Linked DNA regions of Homo sapiens. The protein of the gene in region 3 purifies or fractionates together with the protein of the main gene of each other region. This does not show direct contact. Each region holds a gene or a part of one and is shown on either strand. Other genes may lie near its edges. The genes, in order: TGFBRAP1, VPS41 and VPS33A.

Evidence for each region.
Region 1: the proteins of VPS33A (region 3) and TGFBRAP1 purify together in Homo sapiens (co-immunoprecipitation; 5 studies listed by BioGRID and IntAct, with this or other methods). This does not show direct contact.
Region 2: the proteins of VPS33A (region 3) and VPS41 purify together in Homo sapiens (affinity purification with mass spectrometry; 7 studies listed by BioGRID and IntAct, with this or other methods). This does not show direct contact.

What each region holds. Positions count from the first base shown.
Region 1 is NC_000002.12:105,305,716-105,312,826, forward strand, and holds part of TGFBRAP1 (transforming growth factor-beta receptor-associated protein 1), read right to left. Parts: intron 2,604-7,111; 5' UTR 2,587-2,603; coding exon 1,899-2,586; intron 1-1,898. UniProt on the Homo sapiens protein: Plays a role in the TGF-beta/activin signaling pathway. It associates with inactive heteromeric TGF-beta and activin receptor complexes, mainly through the type II receptor, and is released upon activation of signaling.
Region 2 is NC_000007.14:38,752,192-38,759,302, forward strand, and holds part of VPS41 (vacuolar protein sorting-associated protein 41 homolog), read right to left. Parts: intron 6,291-7,111; coding exon 6,163-6,290; intron 4,792-6,162; coding exon 4,647-4,791; intron 2,746-4,646; coding exon 2,704-2,745; intron 2,562-2,703; coding exon 2,511-2,561; intron 123-2,510; coding exon 1-122. UniProt on the Homo sapiens protein: Plays a role in vesicle-mediated protein trafficking to lysosomal compartments including the endocytic membrane transport and autophagic pathways. Acts as a component of the HOPS endosomal tethering complex.
Region 3 is NC_000012.12:122,229,002-122,235,543, forward strand, and holds the end of VPS33A (vacuolar protein sorting-associated protein 33A), read right to left. Parts: intron 3,968-6,542; coding exon 3,799-3,967; intron 3,427-3,798; coding exon 3,245-3,426; 3' UTR 563-3,244; downstream 1-562.

The DNA.
Region 1 (7,111 bases), on a different chromosome or scaffold from region 3:
GTGCAGTGGCACGATCTCAGCTCACTGTAACCTCCGCCCAAGTGATTCTCCTGCCTCAGCCTCCTGAGTAGCTGGGATTACAGGTGCCCACCACCACACCAGGCTAATTTTTGTATTTTTAGTAGAGATAGGGTTTCACCTTTTGGCCAGGCTGGTCTCGAACTACTGACCTCAGGTGATCTGCCTGCTTCGGCATCCCAAAGTGCTGGGATTACAGGCGTGAGCCACCTAGCCCAGCCTCAACAACTTTTTAGAATGAGGAGCAAAAACAATCAAATGACAACCCACTCTTGTGGGAAAATCTTACCAGGAACCCTTACGGAGTTTTCTGGTTTTTTGTTTTTTGTTTTTTGTTTTTTTTTTTTTGAGACAGTTTCCCTCTTGCTGCCCAGGCTGGAGTGCAATGGCGTGATCTCAGCTCACCGCAACTGCTGCCTCCTGGGTTCAAGCAATTCTCCTGCCTCAGCTTCCTGAGTAGCTGGGATTACAGGCATGCACCACCATGCCCGGCTAATTTTGTATTTTTAGTAGAGACAGGGTTTCTCCATGTTGGTCAGGATGGTCTCGAACTCCCCACCACAGGTGATCCACCTGCTTTGGCCTCCCAAAGTGCTGGGATTATAGGCGTGAGCCACTGCGCCCAGCCCAGAGTTATTTTTGTAGTTATTTACTTAAAAGAATTTTCCCACTGTTAAGAGTGGGTAGATAGCTAGCTAGACATGAATGGGAGGGAAGAGCCCCTGAGAAAAGGGAGGTCTGGAAAATCCCACATCCCAGAGACCATCAAAAAGATGCATGCTGGCCAGGCATGGTGGCTGATGCTTGTAATCCCAGCACTTTGGGAGGCCGAGGTGGGTGGATCCCTTGAGGTCAGGAGTTCAAGACCAACCTGGCCAACATGGTGAAACCCCATCTCTACCAAAAATACAAAAATTAGCCAGGCATGGTGGTGCATGCCTGAAATCTCAGCTATTTGGAAGGTTGAGGCAGGGAGAATCGCTTGAACCTGGGAGGTAGAGGTTGCAGTGAGCCGATACTGTGCCACTGCACTCCAGCCTGGGCAATAAAGCGAGACTCTGTCTCAAAACAAAACAAACAAACAAAACATGCATGCTAGATATGAGCAGAGAGGAGGGAAAGAGGGTAAAGGAGAAATTCCAAAGAGACATTCAGGTGCAGTAAGTATGGACCTAACCGCTGTACAACCTTCCTGGGGTGGAGGTAATGAGCAATGCAGCCATTAGGTGGGATTCACATCCAACACCGGCTGTACATGTGCACCAACTACTAGTAAGAGAGGGTCCCACAAGCTTAGAGTAGAAATTAGGTGGGAGGAAAAGGTGGGGACTTAAGGCAGAAGCGGGAAAACTAGACAAAGGAAAAAGGCAGAAACTTTAAGACAGAGGTGGGAACTTCAAGAAAAACTCCAGCATCATAAAAACCCGATGCAGAACTCTCAGGGCTGCTGGCTCACTCTCTCAGCATCCCACTCTGCCTCATCTTTCAGAACGTACTGTCTCTCTCCATATAAATTCTCTGTTCTCTATTTCCCTTCAGAAAGCTCTCTGCTATCTCTGAATTGTCTCTTGGCCAAAATCTTTCTCCCAAGATGACTAAGGGCTGAGAATATCCCCACTTCCCGGTAACACCACCAGAGCTGTCTTCAAGCTCCACTTTAATGTGAAAGAAACTGGTTTTATGACTCCAACCCCACGTTCACAGAACAATCGAACTGGATTTCATCAAGCACTGGTCAAGCACTGCTACCTCTGTCTTGCCACACACGCCCAATGTCACTGAGGATTTATTCTGCACAGCGCCAATCTCACTCTCCAGTTTCAACACGCAGTCACCGAGGCCACCCAAAAAGATCAGGCGCACAAATGCATCCTCCTCACCCAGCCCTCCGGGGCCCGCCAGCAGGAACTCCTGTCTCCCTATCCTCTTGACGATCGGCGGCCTCTCCTCACTGCAGTAGGGAAACAGGTCCTGGGAGACGCCTGTGCTGTAATTGTGGATGATGTACTGAGTGGTCAGAGCCAGACACAGGAAGTGGCCGTCCACAGCCACAGCGAGGGGCTGCTCGGCAGTCGACACCTCCTTGACGATCTGCACCCGGTCCTCGTACACCAGAAACATCTGGATGGTTCTGCGTTTGACAGAGATGATGCAAACTTCTACACAGAAGGGGTCCCCACTCACAGGGTTCTCGTTCAGTGCAAACGTGGCTGCCCCCTTGATGCGGGCCCCCGAAGGCACTGGCTCGAGGTTCAGCATGTTGACCAGGCTGATGGAGTTGTCACACAGCACCAGCAGCCTGTTGAGTGCTGAGGCCGCACGCAGCTCGTTCACGGGCTTCTTGAAGCCCAAGTGTCTCTGCAGCTGTTTGGTGGCAGTGAACGTGGCTGGCCCAGCAGGCACTGGCCTCTCCTCCAACAGGAAGTGGTAGACGAAGCAGTCGTTGGTGCCCACGTAGAGGTCCCTGCCGCAGCACTCCACGCACTCTATGTTGACGCGCTCCTTGTCGCCCATCAGCAGCTCCCGCTCCACAGCAGAGACAAGCGTAAAGGCTTTGATGCTCATCATGTCTACTGGCTGATCTGCTGGAAGAGAAAGAGGAAAACTAATTTTAGAGGAACAAGGAAGAAGCAGAAACAGAGGCTGCAATAATGATACGTGGATTCCCTAGTTGTCATTTTCATTAAAGAAAGTCATTCCACGCTATCAAAAAATGGAAAGAAACCATTTCCCCACAGACCTCCCCCATCAGACAGCAGAAGACCCAAGAAGAAAACCACAGACACATACACACACACACACCCATATACACATATGTATGTGCTTGTGATCACGTGCCATCCTGCTCAGTCCCCACACAGAGTCACCTGGAGCCTCCTCACATTGCTCCTGGGAGACACGCTTGAAGGCAGAAGACAAATGCATGCATTCACCCACGGGCAACATAACAAAAGGATTTCTGTGAGGCAGGAGGATGGCTTGACCCCAGGAGCTGGAGGCCAGCCTGGGCAATATAATGAGACCCCATTTAAAAAAAAAAACAAAAAGGATTTCTGAAAAAGGCAGAAATGATCCTCACTGATCTTCCCTGAGTTTCTACAGCTACTTGAATATGCACTTTAGTCAATGAACACAACCACAGTCACAGGATCCTGCCAGGAACACCGAGGCAGACGCCAGGCCTTGGATTCCTTTGTGTTCTTCCCAATAAGGCAGGCGCATCAGCCTCAGCTCCGGAGTAAATGTATTCATGTGGAGAGTAAAGGTGTGCCTCGGATCTCGAAAGGCTTTCAGATGGTGAGTGGAGCTATTTAGTGGATGTGTGGACCGACCGGTCCCTGGCTCCCATTGGAAGTGAGACTTTCCCACACACTAGCCCGTCGCCTCCTACTTCATCTTCTGCAGAGAACTGTGGCTTCACACTCCACAAAGTCACAGGGAGAAGATCAGGCAAGGTGGCCTTTCTGACTTCTCAGGCAGCCAGAAGCAAACTCAAAGGCACAGTCCCTGTGAGCGGGAGCAGGGCAGGGGATCAGAGAGCTGGAAAGAGGACTGCAGAGAATGACGGGAGCTGCAGGGCAGCTGGCTGGGCTTGCGTCAGCACTGCTGCATGTTCAGAGAGCTTGAAGTGAAAGGCTGCTATCACTGTCACTTCCTCATCTCAAGTTGTCTGAACATGGAACAGTGCTGCTTCATGAGAGCTTAAGTTCCTAATACTTGGAGGCATTCCAGCAAAGCAGGGAAGACCTCTCAGAAATATTCAAGAAAGGTTCACGCATCAGGGAAGGGAAGGAATCAGAGAACTTCTTTGGTGCCTTTCAAATAGAAAATTTGGAATTCTACAATTTTGTGTCTGCCCCCATCCATGGGGGCAATGACAGCTACACACAAGTGAGACTCCAGCCCCCTTCCTTAGCTCTACAAAACCCCCAGGAGGGAGGATACCCCAGGGTTGAGGAGGAGGCTTGTCTGTAGACACATCAGTCCTTCCTGTTTTCTTCCCATCACTTGAGCAAATTACTTGGTGCTATGGTCAGAATGTCTGTGTCCCCCTAAAATTCATATGTTGGAACTTAATCCCCAGAGTGGTAGTGTTGGGAGGTGGGGAGGTGATTAGGTCATGAGGGTGGAGCCCTTATGAATGGCATTAGTGCCCTTATTAAAGAGGCCCCAGAGAGCTTATTTGTTCCTTCCATCCACTATGTGAGGAGGCAGCTGCAAGGCACCACCCCTGAGGGATGGGCCCTCACCAAACACTGAGCCTACCATGCCTTAATCTTGGACTTCCCAGCCTCCATGAACGGTAAGCAATACATTTCTATTATCTATTAATTACCTAGTGTATGGTAGTTTGTTACAGCAGCTGGAATGGACACTTGGCTATTCCAGCCTCAACTGCCTCATCTGTGAAATGAGAATAACGGTACCTACTTCATAGGATTGTTGGACGATTAAGTAAGTGACCTCATATAAAATGCGGACAGCTGGCACACAGCACTCAAACTTTTGGATCTCATCATAAATACTATGATTCCCTCCCAGTCTGGATCAGCTCTCACTCCTCTCTCAAACTACCAGCTTGCTTCAGGTGTTTATTTCCCAAGCTGGGCACCAAGAGATTAGACTATGCTGTCTTCTGTCCTCAGATATGGGTAACCTGTTCACCTCCGCCAAAACACAGCCTGCATCATAAGCCAGAACACACACTCACACACCTGCCCCACCCCTAAGACATCTTCACACTCACCTACGGGAGCTCATCTTCACAGAAACTATGGAAAAGAGCTGGGGGAAGTGTAGAGGGAGGTTCTAAAGGCACCACAGAGAAGGAATCATGTCCATCTACCTCGGGGCTGTGGGAACATCCCCAGAATCCCAGGTGAGGCCGAGTGCAGAACTCTTGCAGGCTTCTACAAATAGTCTCTGGCACAAACAGCTCTTAAACAACATCATGTATTTGTCCCAACCAAACATAACCACCAAAACCCACCTAGACAACATTTTTTTCTCCATTTAAGAGCTAATGAGTAAAACCCAGATATTGAAATGTCAGCTTCCAGACATCTAAGTTAGTGAAAGTGAAGTAATACAAAATACTTCTTCCTTCATTGATTAATCAATCAGGGTTGTCTTTTTTAAATGGCAGGAGTAAGCAGTTCTGCCATTTAAAATATAAATTGTGTCTCCCTTTGCGGAAGGAATAGAGAAACAAACTCTGGGCACCTACAATCAAACTCCTTTTATTTAGCTTCTTAAAAGTATAATATTCATAATTCCAGCCCCTGTCTTCAGTTAGCATAAGGGATAAACTAAACACATTTGCAGTAAAGAATATTATAGAAAGAATCAAACGCCTCATATTTAGTCTAAATCCTGGGGTAGATAGAGAAGGGGAGAGGGAGAGAGAGCTGTAAAAAAAAAAAAAAAACAAAAAACAAAAAAACATATGGTTTACTAAAAAGTCATAACTCTATAATATTTAAAAACAAATGCAATATTGTTTCATTATCTAGTAAACTGTTATTCAAGCCTTGCTAAAGATAAGCTTCCTATTATAGGCCTTTAAATTAAGGACTTGCTTTGGTAATTAAATGGTAATAATGCAGAATTACATGGAGGTAAATGAAAGCTGAAGAAGTAACATGCTAGCACTTAAAAATGACTTATCCTTAACCCTGTCTCTACAAAAAAAATATAAAAACTTAGCCAGACCTGGTGGGGCACACCTGTATTCCCTCCTCCTCAGGAGGCTGAGGTAGGAGGGTTGCTTGAGCCCAGTGGTTTGCGGCTTCAGTGAGCCATGATTGCACCACCGCTCTCCAGCCTGGGAAACAGTGTGAGATGCTTTCACACAGAAAAAAAAAGAAAAAAGAAAAAAAAATTGGCTAGGAGTGGTGGCTCACACCTGTAATCCCACCATTTTGGGAGGCTGAGGCAGGCGGATCACCTGAGGTCAGGAGTTCAAGACCAGCCTGCCCAACATGGCAAAACCCCGTCTCTACTAAAAATACACACACAAAAAAAAGTTAGCCAGGCATGGTGGCGGGCACCTGTAATTCCAGCTATTCAGGAGGCTGAGGCAGGAGAATCGCTTGAACTGGGAGGCAGAGGGTGCAGTGAGCCGAGATCGTACCACTGCACTCCAGCCTGGGTGACAGGAGCAAAACTCCATCTCAAAAAAAAAAAATTAATTTAAAAAACTATTTTTTTTAAGCAGTGGGAAAATTCTCTCCATGATCTAATTCACATGATATATTTACTTAGATAAAATATGAATCATAAAAAGATAAACTTTAGGCCACACCTCTATTAAATATAACTTGCTGGGGTTCTGAATCAGAGAAGTTTCAACATGGTAATGTTTCAAAAGGAAACGTTTCTCTAAGGTGTAAAATTCATACTTTACTGTGTGATCTCAAAATGATCGAAAATTTAAACTTTTTGTTAGAACTTCACTTTAAGGCTTACCTATAATCCTAACACTTTGAGAGGCCCAGGCAGGAAGATCACTTGTGCCCAAGAGTTCAAGACCAGCCTGGGCAAAATATTGAGACTTGGTCTCTATTTTTAAAAAAAATAAGAATATTAAATTTAAAAAATTCACTTTAAAAGTATGATTATAATAATTTAAAAGATCAACATTTTAATGTTTTCTTAAAATTTCAAAATACATACCCAGGTAGGGAAGAGATTGGAAAATGCTAGGATGCTCAAGGACCATAATTTAATTAAGCTAACCTTGCATATGCAGCAAGCACCTCTAAGTTTGCAAAAAACTAAACAATTACAAGACACAATCCCACTTCCTAAGAGTCTCCCCGTCCTATTAAGGAAATAGGACTAGAAAAATAAATCAGTAATAGTATAAAGCAATACATGCTAAGGGTCAAAATAAAAATATTAGTAATTATTTCCTACCAGGTTAAGAATATGCACATTGTCATTTTAAAGATTCTGCCACTGGTGATAGTCAGAATCTTAGTCAGCATCTTTAAAGATGCTAATGTAAAAATACAAATCTTTTTCTACAAATGTACACAGAAACATTATCTTTTAGTCAGTATCTGGCATCACTTTAAAAGAACTGATGACT
Region 2 (7,111 bases), on a different chromosome or scaffold from region 3:
TGGGTACTGTCTCGGAGAAAGGGAAGTAAGTTTGGTCGATCATATTCAGCATAAAGACTGATCTGTTTTTCATGGTAACGCTGCCCCTTATGGTGGTCTCTCTTGAAAAGCTTATGCAAATACTAAAAGGAACAAAAGATAAGCCGTGACCCATTAAAATGAGAAAAGCAATACCTGGCTAACATTGCTATTTTTAGCTCTAAACACCTCCCATGGACAGGTTGGGGGAGAAGCAGTCTTCAGGGAAAACCTCTAGGTGATGGAGAAGTGGAAAGGAAAACCCTTTGGGAGAGCAAAGGATTCCGATAATTTCTCTAGAAGGGCCCCAAAACCTGACTCTGCCACGTACCAACTGTGACCTTAGGCAAGTCACTAATCTCTCTGAGACTCAGTTTATCTACAAAAATTTTATTGAGTTACTGTGACAATTAAACGAGTTGCCATTACGAAATCACTCAGAACCAATGAACTTAGCATACACTAAGAACTACAGAAATGTTAATGACAGTAGTTGTCAATATCATCATTGGTATCTGCTTTGGCTCAGAAATAAAAAGATGAGTGGTCTTCCCAGATCATAAAAATTATTTTACACAAAAGAGGGTAGAGTCCTGGGACAAGCACATATTCTTAAAAACTCAAGTAGCGGGCACTAAACTCATTTCCATACATTCTGCATCTCCTCTTTGTTGACTCTTCAAATGAAATGCTGCCTAAACTGGTAACATCAAAAACAAAAATACAAAGTAAAAATCAAGAAGAATGCAGGTGTTCTGAAACAGTTTTCAAAACTGATTCCTTACCTTAGCTGTCTGAAAAAAAGTTAACTTCACAGGAAATCAGTAATTCACTTTCTCCTCACAGGCAAGATTAAGTCTATCAATACAGTACTCAGAAGTCAAAAAACAATTCAATGTTTAGTTAATATTAAATGTAAACAAAAACCCCACAATCTACTGAAGACAGGAAGACTTAATCACCAATCCCACGAGCATTAACACCTTGGGTTGCTGTTTCCAAGTGGATTGGTTTATAACAGACATAGAGCACCAGCCGCCCTGCAGCTGAGACTGTAAATGCGCTGATGTTTGTTATTGCTGTTGAATCTAGTCACAATGACGCCTAACCATGGACACATGCACCTTAAGAAACCAATCTTCAGGCTTCCTGTTCACTTCTTCCTAAGGCAAAACGGAGCAGTACAAGCAGTAGACTGAACTCATGTGCCAGGCAGAGGTCTGATGAACACCACCGCCAGTCCACTGGCACTGGGGTCAGTGTGTTAGCGGGGATATGTGGTGCTGTTTCCCAGAGTGCAAAAAGGACAGGGAGGCCCTGTCACATGAATGCTGAGTCAAATTTATATATATAGAAACAAGACATTGCCTGGCAGGGAAGATGAGCCATGTTAGTGTGGGCTGTGCCACCACTTCACCATTGCACTGATTACATTGTCGCACAGAGAGCTACTGCCCATAATCCTGTCTCCTGGCTTAAGTAAGTCAGAAATCACTGCTTTATAAATGAATTCCTAAGGTGGTTAGCAATGTGGAGCCTTGCTTGGGAAGCAGATAATCTTGAGATTTCCAATCATGAACAATGCAGCAGTAGCATCTGAGCAAAAGAGAAAAAAAGGTGCCTCTCATTCCCTTCCTGCAGTCTTCAAAAGCTTCAAAGCAGAAAACTGACTTTTGAAAAAAATGCTCTATTCCCTAAGCCTCCTCCTAGGGTGCAATGAGATGGGCAAAGATACAAGTGCACTTATTGTATCTGATACCCATAGTCCTACTGATATAATCCCTAAGTGTGCTAAGTTTTCTCTTGTATAACTTTTAAAGGACATAGAAAACAACTATTCCTGCTTTACTCTCATGATGATGCAATGCAGAGAATTGAAGTAGCCCCCCAAAGAAATCTAGAATAACAGGCCTTAATTACACAACCACCAATAGCACACAAGAAATATGGAATTAGCTATTGTCATGGTGAGGGACAAAAGAAATGAGACTCTGCCCTTTTATCGCTCTGTGGTCTGGATATGGAATGGTTGTCTGACATTTCCTTAGCAGGAGAACTTGGTACAGTATCTGCGGTGCCATACTGGCCTTTACTGTGATATATGCCATGGTTATATTTAATGGCAACTACAGAGGGAGAGTGCTTATTCCTAGACACAACATAACACAAAAACATTCATTATAGTTAAATATATAGTTATGTTACATATATTTATATTATAGTAATATAATAGATAGATTGGTAACTTTTTTCCATCACAATTCAATTGTGGGTCAAAATTCAACTGCCTGATCTACAATTAATCCCTGACCTTGAATTCACAGCATATGCTGCATTTTGGTAATTACAGAACATTGTTTGTGGTGAAACCTCCAACTGGAATATTAACCTCCTTGAAGAATTCACTCCAGTATCCTCCTCGCACCAATACTGAAAGGTGATTCACCCACTGGTCAATCAAAAGGGCAAAAGGAGGAGACTGCCATGCTCACCACATGCTGTAGCTCTGGTCTGTCTTCCAATTCTTCCACTACCTTTTTAATCTAGATAAAAAAGAAAAGTTTCAAGGTGGAGTCATGAGGACAGAAAGACAGCTACAAAATTATCTGATAAACTCTCTTCTTCACAGCTATAGGAGTCCCAGACGTTCATCTGGTAACACATATAAAAACAAATGACACTCACTGAAATTTTATCTTCATTGTCCAAAAGCATGTCAACAGCTTTCTGAAACATATAAGAAAAGCCACAGTCAATGAAATCCGTTATTTAAGAAGAGAAGACTAAACACAATGCAGTGTACCTACCACAGTTCACAGGTGGAAGGCTTATTTTGTATACTTAAGGAGGCCCTTGGCTTTACAATGGCTCTTATGGAAAATGACATTTGTGAAGAACTGCATTTTCAAATGCATCTCAATCTGAAGCCTATGTGTTTTGCACACTACTAAAATGGTGCTTTGCTATAACTTCCCAAATACAAAACATCTTGACTGCCCATATCCTAGCCCCCCGCCCTCCGATGTCTCGGATACCTTCACACCTTCTCATGAGACTCTCAGTAGTTATGGAGAGCATCTCTTTACCAGTATATCAAGAAAATGAGCTTTTCTTCCAGCTACTTCAACCTCGACCTAGTCTCCCTATGAGACTCCACAGACAGAAGGAGCTGGTTTTATGAGGAGAAGGGAATAAGAGTCAGAAAGAGAATGAGATACCTGAAGTTTCATAATGACATAAAGCTTTTGGACTTTCAGAATTTACTTTAGCCACTTTTATCATTCAGGAAACACAAACTAGACAGTTTATGTCAAGAGGAAGAGGGAAAGCAGCACACCAGACTGAGCCTCACACGGAACACCTGGGGGCCCTGTTCTAGACTCTGCTACGACCTAGCTGTCTGCTCCAAATGTTACTTTTGTTCTCTGAAATACGAGGGTGTTGGAGTAGATTATCCCTAAGGTCTCTTCTAACCAGAAGACTCTGATTCCTTACATCTGGATCACATTCTAGAATAGCAATTAGTTTCAGCTCATTCATCTTTTTTCCACAGGAACATATGCAAAACGAGCTCTGGAGAACAATGGAAGGGGGTGCATGAGGGGAGACTAGATATGAGGAAAATGTAATTAATTTTTACATAAGCATCTCATCCTCTGCCAGACAAGCAGAGCCTCTCTACCTGAACTTCCTTGGAGCTACGTAATTCTTCGTAAATCTGTAGTCCCTAAAGACTTGACTCAGTATTTTAAAAAGGGCTAAAGCATCTTTGAGAAAAAGACGTAGCTCTAGCTCCTATCTAAATTAAGTTTAAGTTGGTGGAGATTAATATAGCACACAATATCTCTAAATACAGTACAATATAATTGAAAAATGCATTAATCCTTTTGGAGCCTTTAGGGTTCTACTTTTAGGTTTATCTAAAATTTCAATTTTTTGAATAAGAACACTGTTTTATAAACCTCATTATTTCTGTCATGAGCACTTGTAATTAGATTTCTTTTACACACACACACACACACACACACACACACACACACAGCTTGCATCACTTTGCAAGCACCAATGTGAGCTGTGGCTGGGTCCACTCATTAGGGGGCGTAAATTTATTATTAGGTTATTCAAATTTGTCACACAATAAAATAACATTCCACATGTCCTGGACATGAGCATCACCTCAAACCAGGGGAAACCCCACATGCTGGATACGTGAACACCAAGAAATAAAATAGTAATAAGTCGGTCAAGATGGAAGTTCACTTAATTTTAAAATTCTGGAAAACAGGTTAGGAGGGATAAATGAGTCAAAGTATATACGTGGTTTGTTTCTATAAATTATATGAATTGTTTTAGCAAGAAATTACTTTATATGCGCACACACACAACTTTAAAAGTTCTCTATCAACTTTGAATTGCTTTCACAGAATAACTACATTATGAAAAGGATTCCTGAATGCCAAACAACTAGAATAACAACATCTAGCGAGGGTCAGAGTGTTCTAAAGATTGTCGGCATAAAGCCAAGTTATGTGATTCATTCACCAATCCAGCATTTGGATAGATATCTAAGTATTAAATATTTGGAATAGTAAAAATAATTGACAGTACTAAAATAAAAAGCACATTACCTCTGAATCAAAATCCATTAATAAAACAATTTTATCCTTGATAGAACTGAAAAGATTATGCTTGTGGATCAACTGAAAAACGTCTTTATGTCTTAATGTTAAGTATATTTCCAGAGCATTGCCATAGTTCTTGTCATAGGTGTACCTGGTAATACAAATTTTTTACATTAATATTCATCAACAGTTCTAATTAAAACACACACAGAGAGATCATGGTTCACAATATTAAAAATGGAAACACTCCTTTAGAGAGAAAAGTTAACTTTATTTCAAAAAATATTCCTATTTTTGAATAGGATTTAACTATACACGACCAATAAGTATTTCTTTCTCAGAACTTTGCCTCTCATGTTGCCAAAATTTAAGAAAATTCACAATATTCAAGTAATAAAAATGGTCTTTATTGGGGGTCTCAGTCTCAAAAGTTTTACAAACATCCATACAGCAAAGAAACTAGGATCCAGGATGAAGTTCTCATTTTAGTAACAGAAACATCCGTTCCAATTCTTACAAGCAGTATTCAGCTGACAAATGGCTAATATTCCAAAAGCTGATTTTAAGGGGGCTGTGTCTAACTGAAATGTGTTTTTCCATTGAAACAATGTTTTTCACATTAAGTCCCTAAGTCAGCTCTTGAGAGCTCACTGAACTGAAGCTGTACTGTTGGTCCATTACGAACGTGCTGCAGACTCTAAGGGGTATCTAACAGGACAACGTTTCCAAGAGAAAATGATTAGCATTTCAACTTAGAATGCCATAAACACAACCTCCTCTTGTGGAAAATCCAACACGTCCAGAGTTCTAGGTCATTTTGGTATACCTTTTTTGGTTTTGGGCAAAAGAAGAAAAAACAAGGGAGAGGAGTGGCCTGAGGTGATGGGGGCACTGAGGAGAGGTGGATGCAGGGATGGTCGTCTTGGCTAGACCTGCAGTATACTTCTTGTTTCCCTAGATCGAAGTACTTGAGAGCATATCTTATCTATCTCTGTATCATAAGCGTCTCGCACAAAGCCTGCATCACTGAATGTGCCCAAGAAATATGAAAAATATTAACCAAGCTGCCATTTTCTGAGCCCTGACTCAGGGTCAGGGAGTCCTCTATTATGACATCTCTTTTAAAGTTTAAAATTTTCCCATAAGGAATTGACATTTGAGAGATTAAATTAACTGACTTGAAGACCCTAGAAGAGCAGAATCCAGAGCCTTGCTCATTGGGAAACTGTTATGCTTGAGTGATCTAAAACTTGGCACCCTTTTGTTTCCTAACCACTGCCTCTCCCAAGCGCTGTGCGTTAGGGGTTCTCTTCTCTGGGAAACAGATTACATTGCAATTGTACAGTTTCACACATGTCCTTATCGCCTACTCATTTGAGGTTTATGAGAGGTTTTTACTAAGAAGGAATGTAGGAAAATGGTATAAAATACATCTTCTCCACTTGGAGTTTGCCAAATCTAAAGTATGAAAAACTTTTCAACACAGACTGATATGGAAAAAGAAACACTTAAGTATACTCACAATTCTGCCAGGGTTTTAAGTAAAGTCTTGTTCTGACTATCTTTCTTCAAATGATCCCGAACTGCTTGAACTATGACTGAATTATTATACAGATCTCCAGGCCATTCTCGGATCAATGTGGCAAAACCCTAACCAAAGGTGAAAAACAGAAAAAGAACACTCATTCAACAGAATAATAGTTGTGATATTGTGAAATATACATTTGGTCCTCCTTCTGTTTCCTGGCATATAACTCTCAAAATCCTTAGAATCTCTAAAATGATGTGTCTTCTTGTATGCTAATGAGCTGACTGGTGGCTAGCAGCCCCTAGGTAACTTAAGGATGGGGTTGGGCACAGGATAGACTGAGACAGGATTAAAGGGTTGGAACTTTTCAGCCCTACCCCCACCCCTGCCCCACAACCTCCAAGGAGGGGAGAGGGGCTGAAGGTTACACCGATCACCAATGGCCCAGTGTTTAAATCAATCATGTCTAAGTAATGAAGCTTTCATTAAAACCCAAAAGGAGTGGCTTTGGAGGGCTCCCCAAGAGCTGAACACCTGGAGGTTCCTGGAGGGTGGTGCACCCAAAGAGGACCTGGAAGCTCCATGCCTCTTCCCACATACCTTGCCCTCTGCATCTAATCCATTTGGCTGTTCATCTGTATCCTTTGCAATATTCTTTATAATAAACCAGTAAATGTAAGTAAAGTGTTCCCCTGAGTTCTATGAGCTGCTCTAGCAAATGAGTCAAATCTAAGGAGGTGGTAGTGGGAATTCCAGTTTATAGTTGACCAGTCGGAAGTACAGGTGACAGCCTATAACTTGTGATTGGTATGTCTGAAGTGGGGGCAGTCTTGTGGGCCTGAGCCCTCAGCCTGCAGGAACTGATGCTATCTTCATGTAGACAGTGTCAGAATGAACTGAATTAGAGGACATCCAGCTGGTGTCCACTGCAGAACTAATTGCT
Region 3 (6,542 bases):
TAAAAAGATAATAAATTTAATGAAAAAGAAAAAAAGAATTATTTCTCTTGAGGCCAGGAGTTTGAGCAACAAAGACCCTGTCTCTAAAAGGAAGAAAAAAAAATTGCTGGGTGTGGTGGTGCTTTGCTATAGTCCCAGCTACTCGTGAGACTGAGGCAGGAGGACTGCTTGAGCCCAGAAGTTCAAGGCTGTGGTGAGCTATGATTGTGCCACTGCACTCCAGCCTGGGCAACAGAATAAGACCTCATCTCAAAAAAATAATTTCTTCTTGAATTAAACTCTGCTCAATACAAACACTTCCTCCTGGTGACAGGCTGGTCTTTAGTGTACAACTGAGAACAAGACCGACCAACACATCATGCTTAATCATAATCCATTTGCAGTGAGGGCAGATCTGAATCGAATAGAACTCACAATGAGACTGTCCCAGTTTTCTCTGAGAATTAAATGTGCTGTTTTAAATCATCCCTCTTTCAACCATTACTCTTTTGCTCCACAATTAACAAAATACTTAATTCTCTGTTGGTTAGAATTCAACACTCTATAGCAAGACACAAAACAGTGTCTGTGTAGACTTCTTTATTAAGGGGGCTGCTGGTGTAGAACTGTCTACCCAACTAGACAAAAGTCCAGACATGATGTAAACAATCCACTCTCCCCAACAATAAATGTACCGTTCACATATCCTTTCTCAGTAAGGGCATACTCTTTTGAGACAAAGACTGCTTCAAGTATTAAATGAACTTACACAAAGGCGTATAATATATAATTATCTACCATTTTCTATTTGCATACAAATGAAGCAATTGAAGTTTTTCAGTCTTCTGCTGAATGCATTTTTAGGAGCTGCCCTAACTATGCTCTGAGCAAGCAAGTATATAGAGTCTTGGGTGAGTGCAGACACATGAGACTACAACTGAGTATCTGTTCCCAGGACAGAATCCCCAGCCAGGGAGACTTGACCAGACTTGAATTGAGCCCCAGGAACCAAAAAATGGAGGGGCAGGGTGGATTCCATTCTCTAAAGCAGCTGATGACTGCCTGAGGTGGAAGGTATAAACTAATCTCCCTGGGATATAACAAGTATTTAAAAAAGGATTTTCTACAATGAAAATGGTTTTCTTTAAGACATTTCCAAATACTGAATATCAAGGCCAAATTAATTCCATGAGAAACTAATCTTTCAATTATTATCTCTGCCACTCTTCATTCTTTCATTAAAGAGATTTTTAAAAAAGTATACAGAATTTCTCTTTCATTAATAATATTTACCGTGCCCATCAGAACTCCACTAATGGGCCGGGCACGGTGGTTCACACCTGTAATCCCAGCACTTTGGGAGGCCGAGGTGGGCCAATCGCCTGAGGTCAGGAGTTTGAGACCAGCCTGGCCAATATGGTGAAACCCCATCTCTACTAAAAATACAAAAATTAGCCAGGTGTGGTGGTGCACATCTGTAATCCCAGCTACTCAGGAGGCTGAGGCATGAGAATCGTCTGAACCCGGGAAGTGGAGGTTGCAGTGAGCTGACATCGCACCACTGCACTCCAGTCTGAAAAGAGCGTGAGACTCTGTCTCAAACAAACAAAAACAAAACAAAACAAAAACCTCCACTAATGAAAAAGGTGGGGAAAAACAATGTGTGGTTACTAATCAACAACCAAAATCACACCTGGCTGGGACCCAGCAAAGCAGGGGACCAGCTAGTTTTGCTGGAGGCTTGGGCAAGGGCAGCAAAACTGCCAACCTGACTTGGTGCCCTTGGTGCCTTAACTCCTCCAGAAGCTAAGATGGAGGAGCAGAGGGGCAGAGAACACACGGATTTTCAACTTCTCCTCCAACACCCCTGCCCCCCACCACAGCCTGACAGTCTCCTGCAGGAGTAGCAGCAGCTGTGGCTGCTGGTCTCCAAGATCATCAAGAGATACACCTGGAGAAGGCTGAGGTCACCAGAGAGGGGGCTGAAACAGTGTTTTCAGCTGAGTACGGAGTGGCCACAGACTGCTAGAAAAGTACACGTGGCAGTTACCATGGAAACGAAGTGGCCAGATGCTGAAGAAGCAAGAGTTGCCCCTGCTCACTGTGGGACCAGTTGGATGTTGGGCCCTTGATGGACAGAAGAGAAAACGGAAACCTCAATGGAGGCACCCACCACTGCTGTGTCTGGAGTTAACGTGTGTGCTAAGAAACTGTCTTTGAATTACTTCAAAGGCTGAATTCTCAGAAGGTTGCTCCCCAATTATCACATTCTTCCATGTCAAAAGCCCCTGATAAGTATGGAACCTAAGGAGATGTAGCTGATCACATAGAGCATAAACTTTGTTTCTGGGCAAGAAGCTCCCCTAAACCTCTTGCTTTGTAAGAAGTAGAAGGAAGCAAACTTGCCTTAGTGATCAGTTGCGACAGTGACTGATGACCCTAAATATAATCTCCCACACTCTGCAGGAAAAAGAAATCTCAACTCAGTGATAAAATGATCTCCAGCTCCCAACACTTAACCACTGTCCTAGGCCTGATGCGCCTTGAAGAAATACAGCACTGGGGATTAGAGGATGAACTTTCTCTTTTTATTTTCAGTTTCACCTCCTCAGTCTCAGCTTTCTTATTTTAAGAGCTGGCCCCGTTTGTCTGGCTGAATGGATTATCTACCCCCACCATCCTTAATGTATTTCCAGAGGTCTCTAATGAAGACCCTGAGCTTAGAAAACTCAAAACCAGTGCTGCTTTTACTCAGGTTGATTTTCTTCTATTCTTCTTTCTTCAGCAGATTAGGGGCCAGGCACGGTGGCTCAGGCCTGTAATCCCAGCACTGTGGGAGGCCGAGGCAGGTGGATCACCTGAGGTCAGGAGTTTGAGACCAGCCTGGCCAACATGGTGAAACACCATGGCTACTAAAAATACAAAAATTAGCCGGGTGTGGTGGTGCATGCCTGTAGTCCCAGCTACTCAGGAGGCTGAGGCAGGAGAATTGCTTGAACCTAGGAGGTGGAGGTTGCAGTGAGGTGAGACCGTGCCACTGCACTCTAGTCTGGGTGACAGAGCAAGACTCCGTCTCAAAGGAAAAAAAAAAAGGGAATACAAAAGAGACGGAGAAAGCAGTAAACAGTAGTATAATTTAAGAAGCTGACCCCAGAATATATTCTGTATTCCCATGTTTCTTCTATGGGGTTTTACTTCCTTTCAGCAATTTCTTCAAAGAGGTAGTTTATTCTGCAGTACACTTGTTAAGTCTCCTCTGAACATCCTAGAAAGGTTTTTCCATCAGAGCCTCTATCCAACTGGTTCCATTCATTAGTTTAGTGGTGGCAATGACATATTCTGTACCTCCATCTTCCAACTGGGAGAGAAATCGCAGGGCAGCAATTTCAGCGAAGGTTACGCCCCCAAGGAAAAATATCAGAGTCACTCGGTTTTCTCCCGGTTGACCTAAAATTTAAACATTTCAGAATTAAAAACTATTTATTATTAATGCTTCTCTTCCCACCTCTTCAAACATTTTATCATTCATAAGAATAAACAAGTGCCTTCATCCAGACAGTTCATCTGAAACCTAAGAATACTGATTTTGATCTCAACATTTTTTTTTAACTTCTGAGATTCTCAACACAGAAGTTGAAAGCTGCTATCCCTCAGGGAATAATCCGATTCGAGTTCTTACTACATACATTAGCAACGAACAAAAGAGGTGTATTTAATTCTGACTCCTAAGTGCTTTACTATTTTACAAAGCAACTGTACAATACCTGAAAACCACACTAACAGTACATAATTATCTGTAGATGCTGGACTGGGACTTACGTTTCTTCTGCAGTCCTGTGGGCAGTGGCTGCCGCTCCTCAAAGTGGGGCCCTGGGAGGATGCGGAGGACCTCCTCGATGCTCCGCCAGCCAGGCCGGGAAAGCAGCTGGGCCAGCCGCACACTGAGCGGGGCATACCCACTGTACACATACGATATGTCCGTGGGGTTCTGTGAGATAATTAAAGAACAAAAACCCTATAGATACAGAGACTTAGAGCTACCTGACTGTGGCCTTTTGGGTAATCCAAAATTATTTGATTTGGATTTAAAGATATACAACCCCCACCCCTGCCATGCCTTGTTCTAATCCACCCTAGCTGGGCTCAATTTTTAGCAGCCAGAGCTTCAATTTTGACTGAAATCTTGAAAAGCCACTCAAAGCAGCTCTAGGTACAGAAGATGAAGAATTATTTGGTTTGGCATGAAACTTTTTTTTTTTTTTTGAGACAGAGTCTGGCTCTGTCACCCAGGCTGGAGTGCAGTGGCATAATTTCAGCTCACTGCAACCTCCGCCTCCCTAGTTCAAGCAATTCTCCTGCCTCAGGCTCCCAAAGAGCTGGGATTACAGGTGTGCACCACCACTCCTGGCTCATTGTTGTATTTTTAGTAGAGACAGGGTTTCACCATGTTGGCCAGGCTGGTCTTGAATTTCTGACCTCAGGTGATCCACCTGCCTCGGCCTCCCAAAGTGTTGGGATTACAGGCCTGAGCCACCGCGTCCAGCCAGCATGAAACATATTGGGGGGAACTTGGCACTCCCTAGCTGAGCAATGATGTGCAATAACCTTTGAACTTAGCAATTCTACTTTTAGGCATTAATCCTACAGAGGTGCTTGCAGAACAAAAGATAATAGACCAAAGTATAAACGTATTAACTGCAACACTGCATGTAACAGTAAAGACTGGAAACAACCTGAATTTCTATCAATAGCAATCTGTTAAATCATTAAATAAGGTATAGCCTCAAAACCACTATGTAGCAATTTAGAAAAATTAAAAAGAAGGGGAAGATCACAGAAGACCCTTCAAGATCCTTTGTTAAGTGGTGGGTGGGTCCAGAGTCAGAAAGGTCAGAACAGTGAAGACAGCTGAACTAATATGTACATGATAGACTCTAGACATTAAGGGTCTCTATTTTCCCACCGGGAAAAAATCATTTAATTTTGCTCCTGACAGAGGAGACTGTCTAGTTATGAGCTTTTGTTGCAAGAGGCGGCCTAATAAAGTTCCTTATGAAAAACCAAAAAAGACTGAAATTTAGAAACATTAGAATAAGTAATAAATGTAAAGCAAAGTGCACCCCACTTTGGAGACCAACAGTAGAGAATATGCACTCTTTATGTAAAAATGTATATGCACAGAATCTTTCTGGAAGGATAGATAAAAAACTGGCCACAGTGGCTGCCTCTGAGGGGAAACTGTGGAAGGAAACTCACTTGGCCCTGATGGCCCTGCTTTTGCATAGCTTTTTTTTTCCCTTTTTCTTTTTCTTTTTGAGATAGGGTCTCATTCTGTCGCCCATGCTGGAGTGCAGCAGTGCAATCTCAGCTCACTGTAGCCTCAACCTCCCAGGCTCAGCCTCCTGGGAGGCTCCCACCTCAGCCTTCTGAGTACAGTAGCTGGGCCTACAGATGCATGCTCCACCATGCCCTGATCACTTTTGTATTTTTTAGTAGAGACAGGGTTTCACCATGTTGGCCAGGCTGGTCTTGAACTCCTGACCTCAAGTGATCCTCCTGCCTTGGCCTCCCAAAGTGCTGGAATTACAGGTGTGAGCCACCGCGCCTGGCCATGGCTGGCTTGTTTATGAGTGCTGGACATCTCCACTGACTCCTCTAGACACTCTCCACCCTTCTCCGCAATGCTCTGTGCCCGGAGATGGACCTGTGCGTCCCACACCAACACACTCCAATGCCTTCTCTTTGGGTCTGACCAAGACAAAGCACCAGAGTGAACTGGAGAGTGGGCAGCAGTGTGAGGATGACGTTGTCACTGGCCAGCTTCCTCTGCTGGAGGTTGACCATACCCTCAGCCAGAGGCCCCTCACCCCTTACCTCACCAGATGGCCTCACCACAGCTCTTCTCTCCAGGTTCTAAGACAAGTTTCTAGAACACCCCCCTCTCCTTGTCCTTCAGGCCGTGGCTGGCAAGGGCTCCCCACTGCACTGCCTCTCCACTCTTCCCACATCTTTATTTATTTGAGACAGAGTCTTACTGTGTAGCCCAGCCTGGAGTGCAGTGGCACAAACATGGTTCACTGCAACCGCCTCCTGGGCTCAGTGATCCTCTAACCACAGCCCCTCGGACTAAAGGCTCATACTACCACTGGCCATTTTTTTTGTAGAGACAAGGTTTTGCCATGTTGCCCAGGCTGGTCTCGAACTCCTGGACTCAAGCGATCTGACCCTTCAGCCTCCCAATATACTGGGATTACAAGAATGAGCCACCGAGCCTGCCCCATAACTTTTTTTTTTTTTTTTTTGAGACAGAGTCTTGCTCTGTCGCCCAGGCTGGAGTGCAATGGCATGATCTGAGCTCACTACAACCTCCGCCTCCCAGGTTCAAGCAATTCTCCTGCCTCAGCCCCCCAAGTAGATGGGATTACAGGCACGCACCACAATGCTGGGCTAATTTTTGTATTTTTAGTAGAGATGGGGTTTCCCATGTTAGTCAGGCTGTTCTCAAACTCCTGAGCTCAAGTGATCTGCCCGCCTCGGCCTCCCAAAGTGCTGGGATTATAGGT